Regions from separate parts of the Homo sapiens genome. Here regions 2, 3, 4, 5, 6 and 7 are each reported to be linked to region 1. Evidence: microRNA targets listed by miRTarBase, many of them from high-throughput screens and not tested one by one. Region 1 holds a microRNA gene; each other region holds the end of a gene's coding sequence.
Evidence for each region. Region 1 holds the annotated microRNA hsa-miR-629-3p (GUUCUCCCAACGUAAGCCCAGC, at 2,106-2,127, opposite strand). A microRNA usually pairs through its seed, bases 2 to 8, with sites in the 3' UTR of a target mRNA and lowers its output. Matches are read on the target gene's strand: a 7mer-m8 pairs with bases 2 to 8, a 7mer-A1 pairs with bases 2 to 7 and ends in A, and an 8mer does both.

Region 1 (3,095 bases):
ACGACTCTCAGAATTGCTTTTCTTATCTCATTCTGAATCCTGAGCCCGCCAGGACTGAGGTCCCAAAGCTGGCTTCAAAGCTTTCATCAGCACATAGCAATCTTTCAGAGACAAAACCATGACAACAGCCTTTAAAAATCTGTGATCATCTGCATGTCAAATGATTCTGGATGAGAAATCCTTGTGCACTTAAAATAAAAACAATCTGAAGGCGCATAAATAGACCCTGGACCTCGGGAGAATTCCTTGGGCTAACACCCTCCACCCCCTCCACCCTTGGCCACTAAAGAGGACGCCTCTGGTTTGTGGAAAGGCAGGCCATCAACTAAAGAGCCTTATGGGTTTTTGCAGGCCTGTGTCCTGGGCTGCCAGCCACGGTGGCAGGGCTCGCCAACCTACGGAGCCTGTCCGCTACAGTGGGGGTTCCTGGCAGGGAGAGGATCAGGAATCACTGCTGTCAGCTTTCTGCCTAGAACACTCTAGCTCCTCAGGAACAGAGTCAGTGTTTCCCAGCCAGCACCACTGTTGGCATTTGGGGAGAGACAATTCCTGTTATAAAGGACTGTCGCTCATATCCCAGGCCAACTGTGTCAACAATGGCCCCCACTTCCAAACTGCCCAGCTCAGACCCACTGGGACTCCACATTGACACATGTGTGGGGCACTCTAGCCAGGACACCATACATCAGGGTTTCTCAAACACCATGCTATTGACATCTGAGGTCAGATAATTCACTGCTGTGTGGAGCCCGTTCTGTGCACTGCAGGGCTTTTAAAAGCATCCCTGGCCTCTCCACCCACTAGACACCCGTCATTCATACTCTAAGGAACCCAGGAGGATTACTAAATAATCATTATATAAATTGTTAATCTAGTTAAGTGGGAAGAGCTCTCCCAAACAGGGTCCTTCCTCACTCTGCTTATTTTTTCCTCGCCTAAATCAACTGATAGTAGGAATGGGGAATGAAGCAAAAAAGTCCGGGTTGGATAGGGCAGGAGTTCTAGAAACAAGCATAGGCTGCAGCTCACTCCAAACCGGCAGAGTAACAAGTTCTCTCACCTTTGAGTTCATGCACCAAATAAGAATAGAAAGATATGTAAAAAACAAAAAGCAAACAAAAATAAACAAAAAAAACCAACCTTACTGTTTAGGAAGCTCACAGGTCCAAGGCCTGTTATCTTAAACAACAATAGAGCAGTGTCTGGCACACAGTAGCTGCTCCGTAAATGTTTGGCCCAAAGAATAGTATCACTGGCATCTCTGCATTTATTGAGACTTCATATTGCAGTGACCCCTTGCTGTGGATCTGGGCCTGCCCCAGCATGGGCAGCATCTGTGGGAGGGGCCGTGGTGGATGGAGTGTTGACATACACTTGGTGGCCAGTGGCCCAAGCCCTTCACCAACGGGGTGGGGTGGCACCTCCAAGCCAGGCCAATCGCAAGCCACCTAGATGGGTCCCTGGCCACTACTCCTCCCCACAGCCAGGAAGGCAGGGGCAAGGTCAGAACATCCCCAGTCATTCTGGCCTCCTCAGCAACTATTAACTCTCACAGTCTCTGGGAGAGCAGGGAGGCAGGGTGATTATAAAAGGGTTCTGGCTATGGCCTCCTTCCACTGGTAAACAGGCCAAGGGTCAGGGTCTCGGGAGTTGACAAAAAAGAAACGTAGCTGACCTTGCCCTTCCCCACACCCTTCAGCAAACACGTGGCCAAAGGCTTCCCACAGACAGGATCTTCCCATAGGGCTGGTCTGGAGCCCAGCTCACTCTGGTTATGAGGACAACGGATCTCCCAGGATTTATGTAGCCATCCGGGCCATCAGGTGACCACAGCTGGGTGGCTCAGGGCAAGTCCTCTCTCATTCTCACCCCTCCACCCTCCTAAAGTAGTTCCTGCCTCCCAACACCACAAACAAGCATCAACTGAGGGCTATCGCAACAATGCCACACAGATGCAGAACCTTCCACAAGCCTGGGGTAGTGGCATTCAGGCTGTCTTTCCTGAGGCCCATGTTCGACGAAGAGAGGCCTCTCTGCAAGGCAGGAAGGACTTTGGCACGTCACCAGACAGGACTGTGTAGGGTTGAGGCAGGCAGAGGGGAGGGGCTGGGCTTACGTTGGGAGAACCTCCTGGTTCACCGTAAAAGTTCTCCCAACGTAAACCCAGCCCCTCCCCTGGGAAAGGGACATGAAGCAAGCACATCCCATCCCTCCCAGCTGTCACTGTGCCATCATCTGCTAGTACCCTCTTGGGGTCTCCCCACAAAGTGGAAGCAGGGATTGGGCCTCCCCCATCTCTACAAAGGCTGCCCAACCCTGAGAATGGGCTGCGTGCACTCTGCAGAGTCAAAGCATGAACAGGAAAGCTGTTCGCTCAACATTTTAAAGAAATGTTTATTTTTTGGAGGGTGGCGCTTGGGGGAGGGGAAGTTCCTGGAAATGGAAAGCTGGCTTAACAGAAGCCCTCCTAACAACAGTAATGACCGCTGATATCACCCACCCAACTCGCCATGTGTGCATCCACAATAACCCCGCGGAGAAGGCGCTTGTCAACATCTCCACTTTTCAGATGGGGAAACTGATGCCCAGCCATTAAGTGATTTCACTAAATGACTTCCTACCAAGAAGCCAAATTTTGACATTTCAAGAGAGCTTAGAGAAATATTTTTGAAAGAAAAACCACCATTAAGGTTAATAATTGACAGCACTTCTGATTAGAACAGCTGTTAAAACAGCATTGGATCCAACTCAAACAAGCTCTAAACATCAGTTCCAAAAAAGGAAAAAAAAAAAAAAAAATCAAGTGTGACTTCAACAATTGGGACAGGTCACAAATCACAAACTGGAACTCGATCGTATGTTGGAAAACTCCTTTTGGCAACTTGGCGCAATCCGTTATCGATAAGGCGGCTGTAGTTTCCAGAGGCCGACCTCCATCCTTCCCTCCATCTCGGTCCCACAAAGCCACTGCTTTTGAGCCAGGTCTTCAGAAGCGAATCTGAGAGGTGGTGGGAGGTGGGAAGATGGCTCCCTTTGGAAAGCACTTTGGAAAAGGTGTTCAGGGAGGCTGGTGCCGCCTTTGAAAGTTTCTTTTC
Region 2 (3,084 bases), not on the chromosome of region 1:
AAAATTAGCCGGGTATGGTGGCGGGTGCCTGTAGTCCCAGCTACTCAGGAGGCAGAGGCAGGAGAATGGCATGAACCCGGGAGGCAGAGCTTGCAGTGAGCCGAGATCACGCCACTGCACTCCAGCCTGGGCGACAGAGCAAGACTCTGTCTCAAAAAAAAAAAAAAAAATCAGACATATAATGGTTACATAGTAAACACTGGTAACTTTTTAAAAGTCACATGTGTATTCAGTACTTGAAAGTTAAGGTTGTTGGGAATATGGTGGTTAATAGCACAGTTGAACATAATGGAAGAATTCACTACCTTAGAATGATCAGTTTCTGTTTTGATACATTTCGTACCAAAATTTCTTCTACAACTCATCAATTATTCTTCGTTGTTTGTTTCACACCATTCTCGAAATCTCACATACTCTTTTCTCAAATTCAGGGAGTCATGTGATATTTCTTGTTTTATTCACAGAGGGCTGGTTTTTAAGTTTGGCCGCACTGAAGACTTATGGCAGTGAACACATCTGATTTCCCACAGCACAACAGCCCTGCATGGGTTTGTTTGTTTTTTTACTGCTCACTCCCAACCTTTTGTAATGCCATTTTCTAAACTTATTTCTGAGTGTAGTCTCAGCTTAAAGTTGTGTAATACTAAAATCACGAGAACACCTAAACAACAACCAAAAATCTATTGTGGTATGCACTTGATTAACTTATAAAATGTTAGAGGAAACTTTCACATGAATAATTTTTGTCAAATTTTATCATGGTATAATTTGTAAAAATAAAAAGAAATTACAAAAGAAATTATGGATTTGTCAATGTAAGTATTTGTCATATCTGAGGTCCAAAACCACAATGAAAGTGCTCTGAAGATTTAATGTGTTTATTCAAATGTGGTCTCTTCTGTGTCAAATGTTAAATGAAATATAAACATTTTTTAGTTTTTAAAATATTCCGTGGTCAAAATTCTTCCTCACTATAATTGGTATTTACTTTTACCAAAAATTCTGTGAACATGTAATGTAACTGGCTTTTGAGGGTCTCCCAAGGGGTGAGTGGACGTGTTGGAAGAGAGAAGCACCATGGTCCAGCCACCAGGCTCCCTGTGTCCCTTCCATGGGAAGGTCTTCCGCTGTGCCTCTCATTCCAAGGGCAGGAAGATGTGACTCAGCCATGACACGTGGTTCTGGTGGGATGCACAGTCACTCCACATCCACCATTGAAGGAAAGGAAAAAAGGGCAGAGACTTGACACTCCAGTCTTAGACAGGGGACAATTTCTTTGTAGTTGTTCTGATAATAAACTGGGTTCCATGTTGCATTTCATCTGTGTACTGAACCACTAGCCTAATAGACCAGCACGGTCAACTAGAATGACAAACATTAGCTACTGGGAACTCTTGTTGTCTCTTCCTCTTCAGAACTCTTGTCCCCCCAGGCTCCCCACCTCTGCAAGATGGGATACACTCTTCAGGACCACAGTTTGAAATGTCTTTCATAAAATGTGCTACAATTAGCCTTCGGAATATTTGCTGGGTGATTTAAATGTGTGGGTCTCATTTCCATGCTAGCCATGGTCATCTGACAGTCTCTACACTGTGAATATTGCCTGGTGATCAAGACTCTCCTCAAAGAAATGACTTGCTGTCATCCCACATGAACTCCTGATGTTTTTTCTACAAAAGTCCATAAAATGTGAAAACTGGAGAAGATCTTAGAGGTTGAAGCCCACCTTCTCTTTTCACATAGGAGGGAACAGACCATGGAAATTTAAACGACTTCCTCACGGTCACAGAACTAGTTTTTTAATCCTCAGGCAGTGCATCCCCCCACCCTACAACTGAGCACAACCTCTTTCCCCACAGTGCAATTCAGAATATGCTCAGGGAATGCCAGCCACCTTGTAAAACTGCTGGGAGAAAAGCATGATTCCCACAAGGACTAAGTATCAGTGATTTGTAATTTTCCTGTTTTGTATTATCTGCTTTGCTGATGTAGACAAGAGTTAACTGAGTAGCATGCTTTATTAAGCATGAGAAAGAATCTTAAGAATTGTCAATAAAATTAACCCAAAACTTTAATAATGTGTCTGTAACCAAGAAAATATTGATAGCATCATCCTAATGAAACTAAACATTTATTTTAAACTTATTAAATTGACTCTTAAACTAAGTTTTTAGTCTTTAATTTTTTAATATCAAATCTGTCTCTGACCTTGTTTCATTATACATAAGGAGACTTTGCTGTCATGAGCGTTTCTCACGTACAAATGCAGGCAACAGTGAGAGGAAGTTGTCTTGTTTTTGAACAGGCCTTGTTTTTCTTGGATGCTTTTGCTTAAAATCCAACAGCCAAATGAGGAAACTGTAAAAGCAAAACAAACATTTTTATTGCAGATGAACCCACATACTGATTTTGGCTTGATCTCTTGAAACAGCCTAAATGTCTCATTACAAAGACCTTAGAAATTCTTTCATAAAATCTGAATTGGAAGAGATCTTGGATATATAGGTTTTATTTCATCTAACGTTTTACATGGATTGTTGATAAATGGCCATCTGGCTTTTATTTGAATGCCTCCAAAGACAGAGGACTCACTACTGCCATATGAAGTAGCTCATTCCATTTGGCAGACAGTTGAGATTGTTAGAAATTTATACTGCACCTCCCCTGGGCCTAGTTAAATTCTTTGGAGAAGTGTAGAGAAAAAGTATTTTTCTTCTACATGCCAGTTTTTTTTTTGGTTTTGTTTGGTTGGTTGTTTGTTTTGTTTGAGATGGAGTTTCGCTCTTGTCTCAGGCTGGAGTGCAGTGATGCAATCTCAGCTCACTGCAACCTCTGCCTCCCGGGTTCAAGCAATTCTGCCTCAACCACCGGAGTAGCTGGGATTACAGGCACCCGCCACCATGCCCAGCTAATGTTTGTATTTTTTAGTAGAGACGGGGTTTCACCTTGTTGGTCAGGCTGGTATCAAACTCCCAAACTCAGGTGATCCACCCGCCTCGACCTCCAAAACTGCTGGGATTACAGGCGTGAGTCACTGCGCCCGGCCTACATGCCGGTCTTTCAAGTGTTCGAAGAGCCTTCTTA
Region 3 (3,078 bases), not on the chromosome of region 1:
TGGAAGAGAAGCAGATTCTGGAGACCAAGAGTTTGGGTGATGGGGTAAAGGCTAAGGATTAGCAGGCAGGAAATTACAGAGCAAGTTGGTTCAGCAGCAGTCATGGTACGAGACGAGCCTGGGAGAGTGGGGACTTCAGGATCTAAGATCTCGGATTCGTGATGAGGCTGGAGGTTTGGCTGTGACTATGGCAGGTCAGCTGCAGAAGGTAATTTGTTACTGGGAGATGATCCAGTTGAGGTAACCTCCAGAGGCCAGGGCACCAAGAGCAGTTTCTCCATCCACATGGAAGAAATATGGAAGATGACATCAGGGAAAGGGACAAAGGACAACTGTATTGGGAAGAGCCAATTGTGAAGGAAGGCAGGAGAGTATCCTATAGCTCAGGAGATAAGGACATGGGGAAAGGGCAGAATATTTGGAGGGGAAAGACTCCAAGAGTCCTGAGAAATGGGGCACAAGTGTGGAAGGAATCCTGAGGAGGAGGGAACATGGAAATTCCTGTGGGACCACAGTACAGTGGCAGAAGTGGTCTCTTTTGGTGAAGAAGAGAAGTAAAGTACATTGGGGCTGGAGAGGGAGGAAAAATGAAGGCAAAACGATGAGCCAAAGCCTTAACCAGATACTTCATGTTGTGACAGTCATTAATTTACTGGGCAAAAGTTGCCCTTTTGTTTGTGTTGAATGTTCCTCTTAATGTAATGAGAGAGTGGCTGAAAAACTCCTGTTGTTGGTAAACCAAAATGTTGGAACTGACTTTTGGTCACGGCCCTCTACCTAAGTAAGATTCAGCAGCTTTGCTAGTCTAAAGGGCCCTGTGTTGGATCCTGACTACTGCGGTTCTATATGGAGGCCACAGGCAGGGAGAGGAGCAGCAGGAGAGCTGCTTTGTTTCATAAAATGGGGACACTGGTACCTCCCTCATAGGGCTGCTTGGGTTTTCAGCCTACAGTTAAGTCCTTAATAAATATTAGTGGTGGCAGTTATCATTATTACAATAAATCCCATAGTTTAATGGGGGAGGGTTTAAAGTACACTCCTCAAAATCATAGTAACAATAATGAGTCCCTCTCCCTCCTCCCTTTCCCCAAAGATAAAGAGTACACTAACATGATCCCGGAACATTTATTTCCAGAGGCTTTTGATAGAAGAGCACAATCTTGAATAAAATTACACCACTGTACTTAAGGGCAACACTACATAGTAAGCAAAATCTGCTCTGAACCCTTTCACAGAAGAGACACTTCAGAAAGGAATTTTACATCTCCTGACAGTTTTACAACATTCATACCTCTGATGCACTTCAAGCCCCAACCCATCTCTCATTTTCTAACTTCTTTAACAGAAATGTGTGTTCACAAGTTGTGTGTGCATGCACATGTGCCTCTGTGTGTACACAAAAGGCTCATTTTACCTACTTGATAAATGAGCTGAGACGATGTTTTGGGAAAAAAAAAATTGGAAAAAAAATGTTACCCCAACACGATGGAGAAGCCAATCCAAAAAAGCTTCATGCTAGAGCTAGCTTTCTCCTCAGAAACTTACATCCTAAAAACATCCCTATGGGTGCCTAAAAATGGAAATCCAGTGAGTTCATGGCCTTGAGTTCACTCCTGTCCTGAATTTCTCCCAGTGCAGGTCCAGAAGGGCGAGATGTGGCAGAAAGGAGAATGTGGGAATGTGTGAGTATCCCACAGCCAGCTCACAGTGCAGCTTGCACTCAGAAAGGAGACTCAGGGACACAAGGTCTCAGGATGCACAGTTCACCTTGGCCTCATGTACCTGGGCTGGGGAGAGGGAGACCATTCAAAAGCCTGTGCTTGGCCGGGTGTGGTGGCTCACGCCTATCATCCCAGCACTTTGGGAGGCTGAGGCGGGCAGATCACTTGAGGTCAGGAGGTTGAGACCAGCCTGACCAACATGGTGAAACCCCATCTCTACTAAAAATGCAAAAATTAGAAAGGTGTGGTGGTATGCACCTGTAATCCCACCTACTAAAGGAGGCCGAGGCAGGAGAATTGCTTGAACCTGGGAGTCGGAGGTTGCAGTGAGCCAAGATTGCGCCACTGCACTCCAGCCTGGGTGACAGAATGAGACTCTGTCTCAAAAAACAAAAACAACAAAAAACAAAAGCCTGTGCTTCAACCTGACTCTTCAGCCTTGGTTTCTCCCAGTACTGTCACTGGGTCTTAGGAACTTTAATGCTCATAACTAATCCCTGTGCCCCAGGAACTCCATTATGAGCCTCAAGAGTCCTCCTTAAGGTATTCAGCTGGTGACTTCAGTCTGACCACTAGCCACCTGCATAGTTCCATAGCCCTTCTTGGCATCTCGATGGGCAGTCATGGTGCCTTGCCATGTAGGGCACATAGCCTGCTTTAAGAAAAGAAGATGGGTAGAGGAAGCTGAGGCTGTTGTCCAGGCCACTGCTGAGTCCTGGCACGGGGTTGAGTGAAGTTCTTGTGAGACAGGTGGGGCCCTGGGGGACCCTATTAGGCAGATGCCTTTGCTGCTTTCTGAGCCTGGTACTCCTGCTTCGCTTGCTCCCTCTGTTGCTGTTCTCTCTGGATCAACTGTACAAGGTCTAGATGCCACTGCTGCAGATTCTGCTCATAGGTGGCGATGTCCTCTGCTTCACAGGTGGAGAGTTTTTCCTTGACAAGCTGGGTGGTCAGACTTAAAAGACCTTCTGACTCAATTTTGCCCAGAGCTTGAAGCTTAGAATGTAAGGCCTGTTGGAAACAAATGGGAAAAATGAGAAGAAAGGTAGAGAAGTGAGAGAAAGATACAAAGAGGAAAAACTAGCCCTGAGTGACTGACTTTAGATTTGAACAAAAGTTTGCTGACTCGTAGTTTAGTCCTCATTCTAGTGGCCCAGAATGAAGTCACCTGCAAAATAACCACACATTTTGCTGGTAGAAAAAAACCATTTTGTTGGGAAATGGTCATGCTGCCTTTCATTCAGGTGCTGTTAGCTGTGGTTATTTTTTTCAGCTCAGCAATTTTGCTAAGATGCACCACATGTGATTTCTCCCCTTTCACTCAAAAACAGTAAATGGAACTCCATATGCTGTGTCT
Region 4 (3,095 bases), not on the chromosome of region 1:
ACAAAGCCCTCTGTGGTCACTCCTTTCACCAAAGCACTAAAGCACCCTGGTGAGTACAAGTATGTGGTCGAGAGCCTCACCCTCAGGTAAGTAAGCATTCTACAGCTCTCCTTCCCCTCACATGGGCACGTGATATGCTGGTCCCACCCCATCTTTTCTCCATCCCTAGCGCAAAGGCCAGTGTGGAGCACAATCTAGGTGCTTGTCAAATGTTAATTTAAGGGCCTCCTTCACGTCCTTCAAACCTCTCTCCACTGAGCCCAGTCAACCATAAGGCCCAAGTACAAAATCCTCAGGAAGGGACAAGCCTCATTTTCCATTCAAGACAAAAGGAATGGAGTCTGCTCCTTGGTGACAGCCCCAACTGCTTGTCAAACCACTCTGGCCTTATTAGGCCAATCTATTGGAAGTACTGCTGGGAGAGGCTGGCCCCACTGGGACAGACGCAGACTCCCGTGATGGCAGAGAATGCCGGGCCCGGGAATGCATACCCAGAGACACTTCCCCAGAAGCTCGTAGGTGCCACCGCTCCTCCTCTTCACTCCAAGCCAGATGCAAAGAATGGGGGAGTGAAAGTTACTTAACTGATCTCCCCCAACCATCTCATTTTATCCAGGAGAAAATGGGGGCCCAGGACTAAGTGCTTCTCCAAAGGTCAAGGTGAAATAGAAAAGCCAGAGCTTCTATTTCTGTGGTAAGATGCATCCCCTTCAGTTTCCTGTGACTTAAGCCTGTCACAAGGCAGGGGCTCAGGATCGCCCTCTGATAGGAAGTCAGGGCCACCATGGGATGGGTGGTAACTGATGAGGCATCCTTTCAGGCCTGTTGATCCTTCCCTTGCTTTCTCCTGAGGCCAGTTTCCCTCCCTAAATGTCTTAGATGAACAAAAGCTCACTGCCACTTGTAGGACACCTCGTATCATTATGCCAAGTTTCTACCCTCAGGCCCTCTTTATATTCCCATCTATTCAGAACTGGTATTTTAAAGATCCCAGAGCACCTGCTATGTGCCAGAGACAGGAGCCAAGATGAACTGTGCTGCACCACTGCACACAAGCCTCATCCTGTCCTCTTGGTTTAGATATTGCTCAGAACCTATTGTTGTATTCAACTATACTTGCACTTGCTCCTATTTGCCCTACATGGGCGTAACTCCTTAAACCAAGCTTTGTTCAGAATTCCTCTGATTGATCATTTAAGTAAATTTAAAAGTCAATTTAAGGAATATAAAAACTGCATAATTTCCAACTCAAGAGTATAAACTTAGATCACTCATTAGCCTCTGGTTGAAAACAGTAATCGTGATTTATACGGAATGCTAAATATCTATGTTCTAAGTGTGCTCTCTTGCCACAAACCCATTTAATCCTAACAATCTTAGGAGGTAAGTTGAGGTAGGCTGTTATTGTTCTCATGAATAAGTTTGGTAAAACCCCAATCTCAAGATACAGCCCAAGCAGCAGAGGCACATGCGTTAGCAACACATGGACCCCACCGCAGTATTAGCAATCATCTTTTGCTATAAGTGCTTGGCTTCCAAGAGCTTTTATACAGATGTCTGAGAGGCACAAAATATGTATAATTAGGCTATTTCTCAAATAGCACAGGAAAGCTGCCAAAGGCGTTCCCTGAATTGAGAGGCAAAGCACTGACAATGGGGACTATTACAGCCTCTGGATACAAGATGACGTATCTGCCAACCTTAACCACCCGAGTCAAATGCTACTTTAGAAATAATTAAGGTTCCCTTTAGTCATTTCACAGGAGTTGCTACAGCAGTACATAAAGTTTTATTAATATTCTGATTCTCGTGTCATAGCTTTTATGGCAGGAAAGGATGAGGACATGCCCCACCTGTAACGTAGAGCAAGCAAACCACCAAGTAGAATCTTGAGATTCTCTCTCAACTGTTCTCTAGAAACACGCTTGTGCTTTTAATCTGCCTTTTAAAAGGGACACAGAACAAAAAATGGTTGTTTGCAAATAAACATCTGAAAGAAAGTAACAGCTGACCTGGGCTGAGGCATCCAAACAAAGCAGTCATTGTGGAAGGAGACAATGCAAACCACACTGGGGCAAGAAACGGGGCAGAGAACGTGCGGTCATTTGTGCGTTGGGTATTTCTACCAGCCCCAAAGGCCCCATCTGGAACAAGTATCAACCAGGAGGGGCTCTATGGCTTGATTTATTAACCTAACTCAAAAGAAGTCACTGCCACCAACAGCACTGTGCAGTTTTATTAACCATTCAAGTCCAGTAGCATCTGGTAAGATTGGGACAGAATTGGGATTGAAAAGTGAACAGATATTCAGCATCTAACAGTTCAAAAGAAGCCACTACATACTCTTTTCACAAATATGTTTTCACAGAGCCAATACAGTACTAGCCATTAACCCAGTACACCAAGTGTACTGAAGTAGAAAAGATGCAACAAGAAAAATAGCTACATTAGAAAGACCAACACTTTAGAAAAAGAGTAAAACACTTTCAGTTTCTCCCCTTTAGCCCCTAAAACAACATCTTACAGTCTGGATCTGGATCTACCTATACAGTCCTACATTAGCTTCTAAAATATTTGTCAGGAGGGAAAAAATAAAATGACACTGGCCAGTACAGTCTTTGGATATTTAGGAAGGGGATGGGGAGAAAGTCAGTTCTCAGAACAAATTAGTCAGCTTCAGTCTCGTCAGCAGGGTCTTTGGATTCTTTGTTCTTCCGCACTTCTTCAATGTGCTTATCCTGTAAAGGAAGGGTAAGGTGTCATCAGTCAAAAAAAAAAAAAAAAAAAAAAGCCTGTCAAGTCACGACCCCCAGCCCCCACCTCAAAGAGGCCCAACACAACCTCAGTGCATATATTACAGCCTGTGGGAACCACACAATTTAAGTTCTGAGACATCATCATCAAATCTCCTGGGTCCCTTGTAGAACCTAACAAGCTGCCTACTGGACTTCCAAGGACTGTGCAATTATGCTGGGAATTACTGAATATTCCATCTTAAAATATACCTTTCATTTAATATGTTAAGCCCCAAAATGGATGACAAAAAGACACCAAACACCTTTTATCAAAGCACTTAGTTCAAGCCAACTCATTGG
Region 5 (3,095 bases), not on the chromosome of region 1:
GAGAAGGGGTATCAAGAATGCCTCGAGGGGGAGATGGGTGAACCAGAAGGTCAACAGTTGCATTTCTTCATCTAGAATGTTCTCTAGAAGGGAATGATGATCATGAGAGTCCCCTTAAGGCACACCGCAGGTACTGACTGATTTCTGTGGGCCCAGAATTATCACTTTAATACAGAGAGGATAAATTGGCGTTGTTTTTTCCCCCCAATAAATCATTACCTTCAACAGAGCAGTTGAGATGAGGTCTAAGGACTAACAAGAACTTTTCTATAAACAAGTTGGATTTATTCTGAATCTTTCCTTCACCTTAGACTTAGAGGGTATAAGTTGGAGGTGGAAGGAATGGCCTCCTACTATCAGCTCCTCCCCCCAAAAGGAGGGGAAGCTTGAGAAATAGTTTTTTAAATGTATGAGCAAAAAGCAGGAGCTGCAGTAGGAAGCAGTCCTCATGAGGGCTGTTCCCTTCCACTGCTGGAGGCAGAGGGTGAGGACGTGAAGGAAGAACAGGGATGCTGCCACATCCTGTTAACTCAGGAGCTGACCAAGAGCTACCAGAGAAAGCCAATGGAAAACACTATCTAGTTCCATTACCGTGAAATACAACTGGCCAAATCACTGTGGAGGAATGTCTAACAGGTGGGAAAATAAAGCAGCAAGTAGCCGCTTCCATACCACATTTCTTCCTTATTCTTTCCTTTCGTGGGCAACACAGGCTCCAATTTCCTAAGCCTCACACCTCCTTTCAGCAGCTCAGAGATGAACCTGGCTTCGATTGGTGCTTGAATGCGCTCAGCCAATGGGTGTGAGGATCCAGAACTGGCAAGTGTTAATACTGGAACTCATAGGATTTATTACTTTTTAAAAATCAAGATAACGCACCAGTTTGCTCTTCACCTATGCAAACACAAATATAGCAATTAGAATACAGAACAATCAATGCAACTATCAGAGCCCATGAAGAAAAAAATCATTGCCTCAATAATCCCATTCCCCCCACTCACCTCTAATTACTTAATCCAAGTACACAAAAACCCTTAAAACATCACTCCCTAAATGGGACACTAAAACACAGAACAAAGACACGCTACAGGATAAAGCTGGAAAGACACACAAACATACTCCCAGACCTTGTTTTGACCAATTTTTAAATATTGCTTTAGGGAGATTTTATTTGAAAACATAAATTTCAAAAAGAAAGCACATTTAAAACATCAGGTTTTGGTGATCAGGGTAGGTAAAGTATTTTTATTATAAATTTCAAGATCTAAAAAATAATTTATTACATTTACTAAGATAAATCTAAGATGACCTTTTTAAACCAAGCCACGTGTGCCCTGCATAGTGACGTCGTGGCCCTCGGGCATGGAAAGACACGGGTCTGCCCTTCCTTTAGGGCTGGAAAGACACGGGTCTACCCTTCCTTTAGGGCTGGAAAGACACGGGTCTACCCTTCCTTTAGGGCTGGGATCAGCCAGAGGAAAGAAAATTATGCCGATGCTCAACTAGCATATACTGATTAGGACTATTTTGGTTTATTACCCTGGCATTGAAGAATTCAGGTGAAGATGCCACCACTCTTGAACTCTGAAAGCCAAACTAGAATCTGCAGAGCAGCCTCAGTCTTAAAATTCAAGCTTCTTTTTCCTACTTTTTATTTCAGTGATATTTAGGACACTCTCTATTTCATAAGAATTATGATCTAACTGGCTCTATAAGCCCAAGAATAAAAATCCTTACCCCCTAGCAAGAGACCCATAGAACTCATCAGTAGTAAGACTAAGGTCCCATATTGGAAAAAATATACTAGCCCAAGGTTATAGACAGGGACCATCCAGCAATAGAGATGTTGCTGGCAAGTAACCATGGTGGTGGGTGACCACTAGCGAAAAGGGCTGAAGAGACCTCAGAAGGTCATCCAGGTTATCCTCCTGCCTTGACACAAGACACATGTGTCTCTCTAGCCAGAGTTACTTGCAGTTGCACTCACAAGTGGGGACCCCAGGTCTCCTTCATGTGATTTTCTCTGTGTACATATTTCGAAGATTCCCAAAGGCAGCATTTTTACAAGGTGGAGCTGCAGGAAGCTTCGGGGACTTGACAGACTGAGTCCAGAGCAAGCCCTCGCCCGTGGGATCTTAGCAGGAACCTGGGGGTGAAGAGGAACAGTGCAGTCCCTGAGAGGCAGCTGAGAGTACGGGCGAGCACCCTCACACTCCAGGATGAGGGCGGGGGGCAAAAAAAGAGTGGGTGCAGAGCCTGCTCATCGAGAAAGATGAAATTCTAAGGGGATTAAGAGCTAAGAAGTCAGTAGCTGAGGAGCCCACAGCTAAGTTCTCTCAGCTGGGAATTTCTATCCCAATTCTTCCTAAGTAAACCCTCTCTCGCTAAAGCAGTGGGTCTCAATAGGGGATGTTCACACGGGACATTTGGCAATGTCTAGAGACATTTTCGTTTGTCATCTCTGGGAGGGGGTGCCACTGGCATCTAGTGGGTGGAGCCCACCACACACAGGACAGCCCCAACACAGAGAATGGTCAGAACAGCACTAGTGCCAAGGCTGAGAAACCCGGTCCTGGAGGGGGTGCTTTACCCCTAAGATTCTCAATTTAGCATGAGCGGAGGCCCTTGGGATTTACAGTCAGATGAATGTGAATGCCCCACCTCAAGCCCTAACATGCCTAACATGCCACTGCCATGTTGAGCAGAAGTCCCCAATTATCCCAGAGTGTTCCACAAATGTCCAGACAGCTGCTGGAGGTTCAAATTCCAGCCAATACAACTCCAACCTTACATCCTTCTGTCTTTCTCTTCTGAAAAGCCTCCTATTTCTTTCTCAGAGCCAGGGCTACCCCGATGGCCACTGCCAGGATGGCAACAGCAGCAGCCCCTCCAAACAGCAGTATAGACTTGCCCTCAGACAGCGGCATGGGCTTCATCTCACCGGCGGGGGACAGTCTAGACTTGCCCTCAGACGGCGGCACGGGCTTCTTCTCGCTGGCAGGGGACAGCTCTTCCACAAGGCTCTCTTCCCTTGCGTTTATCTCCTTCTCACTCAGCAGCGTTTCTGTGGGTTCCAGTGCGGGGACCACCTCCTC
Region 6 (3,000 bases), not on the chromosome of region 1:
ACCTATTGGGTACTATGCTCACTACCTGTGTGACAGATTTATTCATACTCTAAGCCTCAGCACCACACAATATACCTTTGAAACAAACCTGCACATGTACCCCTTGAGTCTAAAATTAAAAAAAAAAAGGTCAGGTTCGTGGTAATTTTTTATTTGTAACTTTTCTAATTTTTAATTTCCAATTTTGCTTAATTCGAAAAAATACATACCACTTTAGAGCAAATAGGACACAACGTTAACAACTGATAACTCCAGGTGAAGGTTATATGGGGTTCACTGTTATATATACATATATATGTGTAATTTTTTTTTTTTTTTAAGACAGACTCTCTCTGTCACCCAGGCTGGAATGCAGTGGTACGATCTCCGCTCACTGCAACCTCCGCCTCCCAGGTTCAAGCCATTCTCCTGCCTCAGCCTCCTAAGTAAGTGGGATTACAGGCATGCGCCACCATTCCCGGCTAGTTTTTGTATTTTTAATAGAGTCAGGGTTTTACCATGTTGGCCAGGCTGGTCTTGAACTCCTGACCTCAGGTGATCCGCCTGCCTCGGCCTCCCAAAGTGCTGGGATTACAGGCGTGAGCCACCACGCCCAGGTAGGGTTCACTTTTTTAACTTTATTGTTTTAACTTCCCTGTAGATTTGCAAATTTTCAAAATTAAAAAAAAAAAAAAAGGCCGGGCATAGTGGCTCATGCCTGGAATCCCAGCATTTTGGGAGACAGAAGTGGTTGGATCGTTTGAGCCTAGGAATTCAAGACCAGCCTGGACAATACAGCGAAACCCCGTCTCTACGAAAAAATTAAAAATTAGCCGGGCGTGGTGGCCGGCATCTGTGGTCTCAGTTACTTGGGAGGCTGAGGCTGGAGGAATTCTTGAGCCCAGGAGCTCAAGGTTGCAGTGAGCAGTGATCACACCACTGTGCTTTGGCCTTTGCGAAAGAGTGAGACTTTGTTTCAAAAAAAGGAAAAGAAAAGAAACAGAATTTTGATGGCAAATATGGAAATGATCAAGTGTAACGGAATATTTTTGTCACAGGAGAGGCCAGAAGGGGACCGCTGAGAAACGGCATGGTGCCTGCAGGTGCTCAGAGTGTCCAGTAGGGGGAAGCAGAGTCCAGGTTCTGTCTCAGGTTAGGCTTTGAAGCGGGTGGCGGGTGGGACAGACTTTCAAGAATACAATGAATCCTGAGCGGCATGGCTGGAATAACAATAATTATTAAAAAGCGTCCTAGGAATATTAAGAAGGACAGCGATGAAAGAGGCTTTAGAAATAACCTAGTCCTTATTCGGCAGAAGGCAAGACTGAGTCCAAATAGATTTTTCCCAGATTTAACCCAAGGAATTCACGAGAAAGCTTGAAATAGAACCCAGGTCTCTATCTCTTTAGATGTATGGAAAGAAATAAAAGCCCGTTTTCAGAAGGAGAGCTTGCAAAATTTGGTTTTCTTTGGTAGGAAGTGAGTCTCTCTCTCTCTCTCTCTCTCTCTCTCTCTCTCTCTCTCTCTCCCCCCCCCCCCTCTGTGTGTATGTGTATATGTGTGTGTGTGTCTGTCTGTCTGTCTGCCTTGCCTCTTGGACACCAGCAAATGGTGTCAGTGGAGTTCAAGGAATGGTCCTCTTTCCACTGCAAATCTCTCTCTTGTTGTCTTGAACCCCAAAAGCATCCGATTTTATGTTCTGGAGGAGAGAGAGAGAGTCTGGGAGGTTAGAAACAGGAGCTATGGGAAACAGGAGGAAAGATCTGGGAACCATGAAAATTGTAATAAAATTGCTTTATTATTTTTAGTTACTACAAATATATATTATAATATTTACTAAGGAAAAAATCAGAACTCATAACAATAAGAACTTAAAAAATACCCACAATCTTATATACCAAAAGGTAAATGCTCTATATTTAAATACAGGTGTTTTTCATGAAGATGGTATGCAATAATTCTTATGAGAGCATTTTGTGATATGTAAAGTGCATGCAGTCCAGTGTCCAAGGGGTCATGGTTGTAAACAGCGGGTCGAGGGCGCTGTCCATGGTACTGAACCCGGGCAGATGAGGGGAGGAACATCTCTGAGCTTGTTTGGAAGTGCTAGCAGGGAAGTCCAGATAGATACTTGTATGCCTTTGACTGAAGCGTGGTCCTCCTCTATCAGAGAAGGTCGTCCTCTCGTCCTCTTCAACTGAGCATGCAGCTTTAGGAGGGACACATATGGGGCAGTGAGGGAGGACGGGGACACCCGCCTGCTCAGCCAGATCAACCAAATCAATCCTGGCGATCAATGGGGTGAAAGATGTTGCAGTCAGAGTACCCTCAAATCTGGAGCGTCTTTGAAAAATGAGCAGGAAAGCCTAGCCTGATATCATGACAAGCCCATTGGAGCGTCCACGGGTTTCTATTTGAGAATCTCCCAGCACTGCTGTCTCTCCTCTTTCTCCTTGGTAAGTACAGGGCTTGTTTCCTGTACTTACAATGGGAACATTGAGTTCCCATGGAAGGCTCTCAATGGGAAAATGCTCCACCAAGCTTAGCCGGACTGGGATCTCCTCACTCCCAGACTTCTCAGCTCCATGCCTTAAAATGATGTCGTCATTACCTGAGGCCTCTGAATTCGGATCTGAAAAGAGAGATAAAACCAAGTGAGGGCTCAGCCCATGAGGAATTTGGGATTCTGGAAGCATAAGGAGGATTGGGATAGGAAGTGTTCTGTTTAATTATTTTTATTTTTTATTATTTTTTTGAGACAGGGTCTTACTCTGCCATCCAGGCTGGAGTGCAGTGGCACAATCACGGCTCACCATGGCCTGTAACTTCTGGCCTCAAGCAATCCTCCCACCTCAGCCTCCCAAGTAGCTAGGACTACATGTGCACACAACCACACCTGAATAATTTTTAAATTTTTTGTAGAGATGAGGTTTCACTATGTTGCCCAGGGTGATCTCAAACTCCTGGGCTCAAGCAATCCATCCACTTCGACCTCCCCAAGTGCCGGGATTACAGGTGTGA
Region 7 (3,095 bases), not on the chromosome of region 1:
CACTCCAGCCTGGCAACAGAGCAGGACTCAGTATCAAAAAAAAAAAAAGGGTCTCACTTTGTTGCCCAGGCTGGTCTCAAACTCCTGGCTTCAGACCATCCTCCTGCCTTGGCCTCCCAAGGTGCTGGGATTACAGACCACTGTGCCCAGCCTAATAGTTTCCAGTATGAGGAAGACAACGTTAGATTTTAGTGGATGATGTTCTTTAAAATAGCATGGACAAGCAATGTTCTGTTGAATATAAATAGTACTGTAGGTAGAAATGGTGCACTGTTGAGCGGCCTTTAACTGCTCTGTTTCTGACAGGCGGCCTTCCTCATGCATCTCCTGGGAGGTGGTGGAGGCCACATGCGCCTGCCTGCTTGCTCAGGGAGAAGAGGCCGAGAAAGAACACTGCTCCAAGTGCCTGGCAGAGCAGATGATCCTGGAGGAATTTGGAAGGTGCTTATCACAGATTCTCCACACTGAGTTTAAATCTAAGGGATTGAAAATGGAGTAGAGTATAAAGTGTGAATGCATGTTGATTTTGTCTTAGTCTAGAAATCTCTAGTTTAGAAAGGATGTTTAGGGGAACATGAGGCTGGCTCTGCAGCAACAACCAGGCTCCCCTGCATCCCTGGGCCCAGGGAGTTTACTCAGAGCTCTCTGAAGATGTGGCAACCCATGCCCCCTTTTCTGAGGAGGTGCATGGCCTGAGCATTGTTTGTCTGGCCCAGAGGAGAGAGCTTGGGTTCCCATAGTCCTGGGAGAGTGTCTGCAGGGCGGCGGAGGGCAGAGCAGGGCAGGGGAGGGCACAGCAGGCCCTGCGAAGGGCAGAGCGGGGCAGGGGAGGGCAGAGCAGGCCCTGCGGAGAGCTCACTCTGGTCGACTCTTCCTCTCAGAGAATGTTGCTCTGGAGGCTGCTCTGCATGAAAACCCTAATGGTTTCTTGTTTGTTTTTCAAATTATTTAGAAATAAGTTCTCCGGATGGGCTGTTGTGATACCACTTAAAATCTCTAGAGAACTACTGAACACCTAAAGATTTTCTGTAGCGTAGATATTTCCCCAGAGGCACGCGAACTGTCAGTCTTTCCTAAGGCCCCCGGGAGACGCAGGCAATGGGGCCTCGCAGGCCAGGCTTGCACCAGCATGTCTTGAGTTAGAGGACTTAAAATTATCCAGTTTCTTCTGTGTTTCTACTTGAATTGTGGAAAAGCTCTATTATCCAATTAACTTCTCCATAATTATTGTTGTAATATTATTATTGTTTGTAAAACATGGTTCACATAACTAGCTTGTGGAAACCAGCAGGTAAAATGAATTCTTAAGTTGACGCTTTTGGTTCTGTTGTAAAGCAAAGATGAATAAAAATTTCCAATGTCTTCAATTGTTGTCATTAACTTAGTAACTGAAAATGTGTTCATCTGATGAGTACCCACCCTGAAATGTATTGAGAGAATATTCTTTCATGTTTCTGCATTCATTACTAGTGTTGGCCACTTAGAGGGTGTTCAGGAAACTCAAGTACAAATGCAGCAGAGACAGAAGTGTGGCTGCCGGGCCCAGGCACTGGGCACATAAGTGAGCAAGCAACCAGGGAGGAAGCTGTCTTTTGTGGAGCTGTCTGGAACAGTCTAGTTGCAAACACAGCCACAGGAAGCCACAGAGGAGAAAAGGAAGACTGAATTCTTCCCCTTTGCAATTCCCTTTGGACCCCTGGGATCCAGAGTCTGTGGCAGAAAACCAGAGGTAAAGACATGCATTGTGAGACGTGGAACCCTCAGCCAGCCGTACACCCCACTTGCTGTGTGTGCTTTCAGTCCTGTCAGCATCGCGGCGAACAGGGAGGCGCACTGCTGGGGGAGCCACCTGGCCTCCTTCACCCTTGGGAGCTGGAAGGTGACCTGGAAATGGGGACTTTGGGAGCTGCCTCTGGGGGGGCTGCCTCCATCCTGCTGTCCCTCTCGGCAACACTGCCAACAGCAAGATCTGCCAGCCACATGAGTACTGTTAAAGTTTCTAGTAGCTACATGTAAAACTTTGAAAAGGAGCAGGTAAAATTAGTTTTAATAATCTTTTATTTATCCCAATGTATCCAAAATACTATCGTTTCAATGTGTAATCAGAATGAAAATGATTGAGATTTCACATTCCTTTATGTGTACCCAATATTTGAAATGCAGGGTGTCTTGTACTCACAGCAGGTCTCAGTTGGCACCAGCCACACCTTAAGGGTTCGGGCGCCTCAGCACAGCCCTGGGGCACCGAGTGGAGGGAGGAAAAGGGAACAATGTCCTCCAGCATTCTCCTGAGGCAACGGCTGCCTAGGGAGATCCTGAACCAGGTGTGGCCCACCCGCGGAGCCCAGAGGAAGTGTGAGCAGGGAACTCAGTGTGGGGCTGGGGATACAGGCCCCCCACTTTGCACAGGAGCCTGCGCTGGCCAAGGATGCTCTGACTGTGGCCAGGTGTACTGAGCTAACGCCTGGAGGTGAGGGAAGAGCCAACCTGGGCAGGCACGAGCCCTGCAGGGTCTTCCGGCAGAGAAGAATTCACTGAGTAGGTGCCACTTGCAGGGAATCCCGTCTGAGAAGTGAAAGCCGAGATACAGACGTGCATAAAGCCACTATGCTGACCAGAGACAGTACAGAAGATGACTACAAAGCTAGAAAATCCCATCTCTTATGTGTTTGGCGGAGAGCCAGTGCTATTTTAAAACGATATACAAATTAACATATCATGTTCTTATTTGAGAGTGTAGCTGTGCAAATTTAACCATATCTTTTTTTTTTTTTTTTTTTTTTTGAGACGGAGTCTCACTCTGTTGCCCAGGCTGAAGTGCAATGGCGCGATCTCGGCTCACTGCAACCTCCGCCTTCTGGGTTCAAGTGATTCTCCTGCCTCAGCCTCCTGAGTAGCTGAGATTACAGGCGCGCACCACCACGCCCGGCTAATTTTTGTATTTTTAGTAGAGGTGGGGTTTCACCATGTTGGCCAGGCTGGTCTTGAACTCCTGATCTCAGGTGATCCGCCCCCCTGGGCCTCCCAAAGAGCTGGGATTACAGGCGTGAGCCACCGCGCCCAGCCTTAACCATATCTTTCTACTCTGTACCTAC

Region 2: the mRNA of TMEM50A is a reported target of hsa-miR-629-3p. Seed matches in the 3' UTR shown: 8mer at 1,909-1,916.
Region 3: the mRNA of MRPS27 is a reported target of hsa-miR-629-3p. Seed matches in the 3' UTR shown: 8mer at 2,165-2,172, 8mer at 1,624-1,631 and 7mer-A1 at 1,527-1,533.
Region 4: miRTarBase lists STMN1 as a target of hsa-miR-629-3p. Seed matches in the 3' UTR shown: 8mer at 2,491-2,498.
Region 5: miRTarBase lists BCL2L13 as a target of hsa-miR-629-3p. The part of its 3' UTR that is shown has no 7-base or 8-base seed match.
Region 6: the mRNA of MUC17 is a reported target of hsa-miR-629-3p. Seed matches in the 3' UTR shown: 7mer-A1 at 2,426-2,432.
Region 7: the mRNA of TESMIN is a reported target of hsa-miR-629-3p. The part of its 3' UTR that is shown has no 7-base or 8-base seed match.

Annotation. Positions count from the first base shown.
Region 1 is chr15:70,077,282-70,080,376 of GRCh38, forward strand. MIR629 (microRNA 629) reads right to left here and starts at 2,187; the gene lies at 2,091-2,187. All of the region lies in intron 4 of TLE3 (TLE family member 3, transcriptional corepressor), which reads right to left. RefSeq lists enhancers at 1,038-1,644, 1,645-2,251.
Region 2 is chr1:25,360,196-25,363,279 of GRCh38, forward strand. TMEM50A (transmembrane protein 50A) reads left to right here. Exons shown (of 7, transcript NM_014313.4): 7 at 465-2,166. The coding sequence ends at 510. It overlaps RHCE (Rh blood group CcEe antigens), which reads right to left. Exons shown (of 10, transcript NM_020485.8): 10 at 2,054-2,358. The coding sequence ends at 2,332. Among named protein-coding and RNA genes, the nearest start is that of TMEM50A, 23 kb to the left of the region's middle.
Region 3 is chr5:72,218,417-72,221,494 of GRCh38, forward strand. MRPS27 (mitochondrial ribosomal protein S27) reads right to left here. Exons shown (of 11, transcript NM_015084.3): 11 at 987-2,732. The coding sequence ends at 2,493. Among named protein-coding and RNA genes, the nearest start is that of MIR4803, 50 kb to the left of the region's middle.
Region 4 is chr1:25,898,350-25,901,444 of GRCh38, forward strand. STMN1 (stathmin 1) reads right to left here. Exons shown (of 5, transcript NM_005563.4): 5 at 1,767-2,738. The coding sequence ends at 2,667. Among named protein-coding and RNA genes, the nearest start is that of STMN1, 6.5 kb to the right of the region's middle.
Region 5 is chr22:17,727,262-17,730,356 of GRCh38, reverse strand. It overlaps BCL2L13 (BCL2 like 13), which reads right to left. Exons shown (of 7, transcript NM_015367.4): 7 at 1-3,095. The coding sequence ends at 2,823. Among named protein-coding and RNA genes, the nearest start is that of MIR3198-1, 35 kb to the left of the region's middle.
Region 6 is chr7:101,057,614-101,060,613 of GRCh38, reverse strand. It overlaps MUC17 (mucin 17, cell surface associated), which reads right to left. Exons shown (of 13, transcript NM_001040105.2): 13 at 1,755-2,611. The coding sequence ends at 2,570. It also overlaps the pseudogene RN7SKP54. Among named protein-coding and RNA genes, the nearest start is that of TRIM56, 26 kb to the left of the region's middle.
Region 7 is chr11:68,705,712-68,708,806 of GRCh38, reverse strand. It overlaps TESMIN (testis expressed metallothionein like protein), which reads left to right. Exons shown (of 10, transcript NM_004923.3): 10 at 307-1,367. The coding sequence ends at 499. Among named protein-coding and RNA genes, the nearest start is that of GAL, 23 kb to the right of the region's middle. RefSeq lists an enhancer at 1,330-2,088.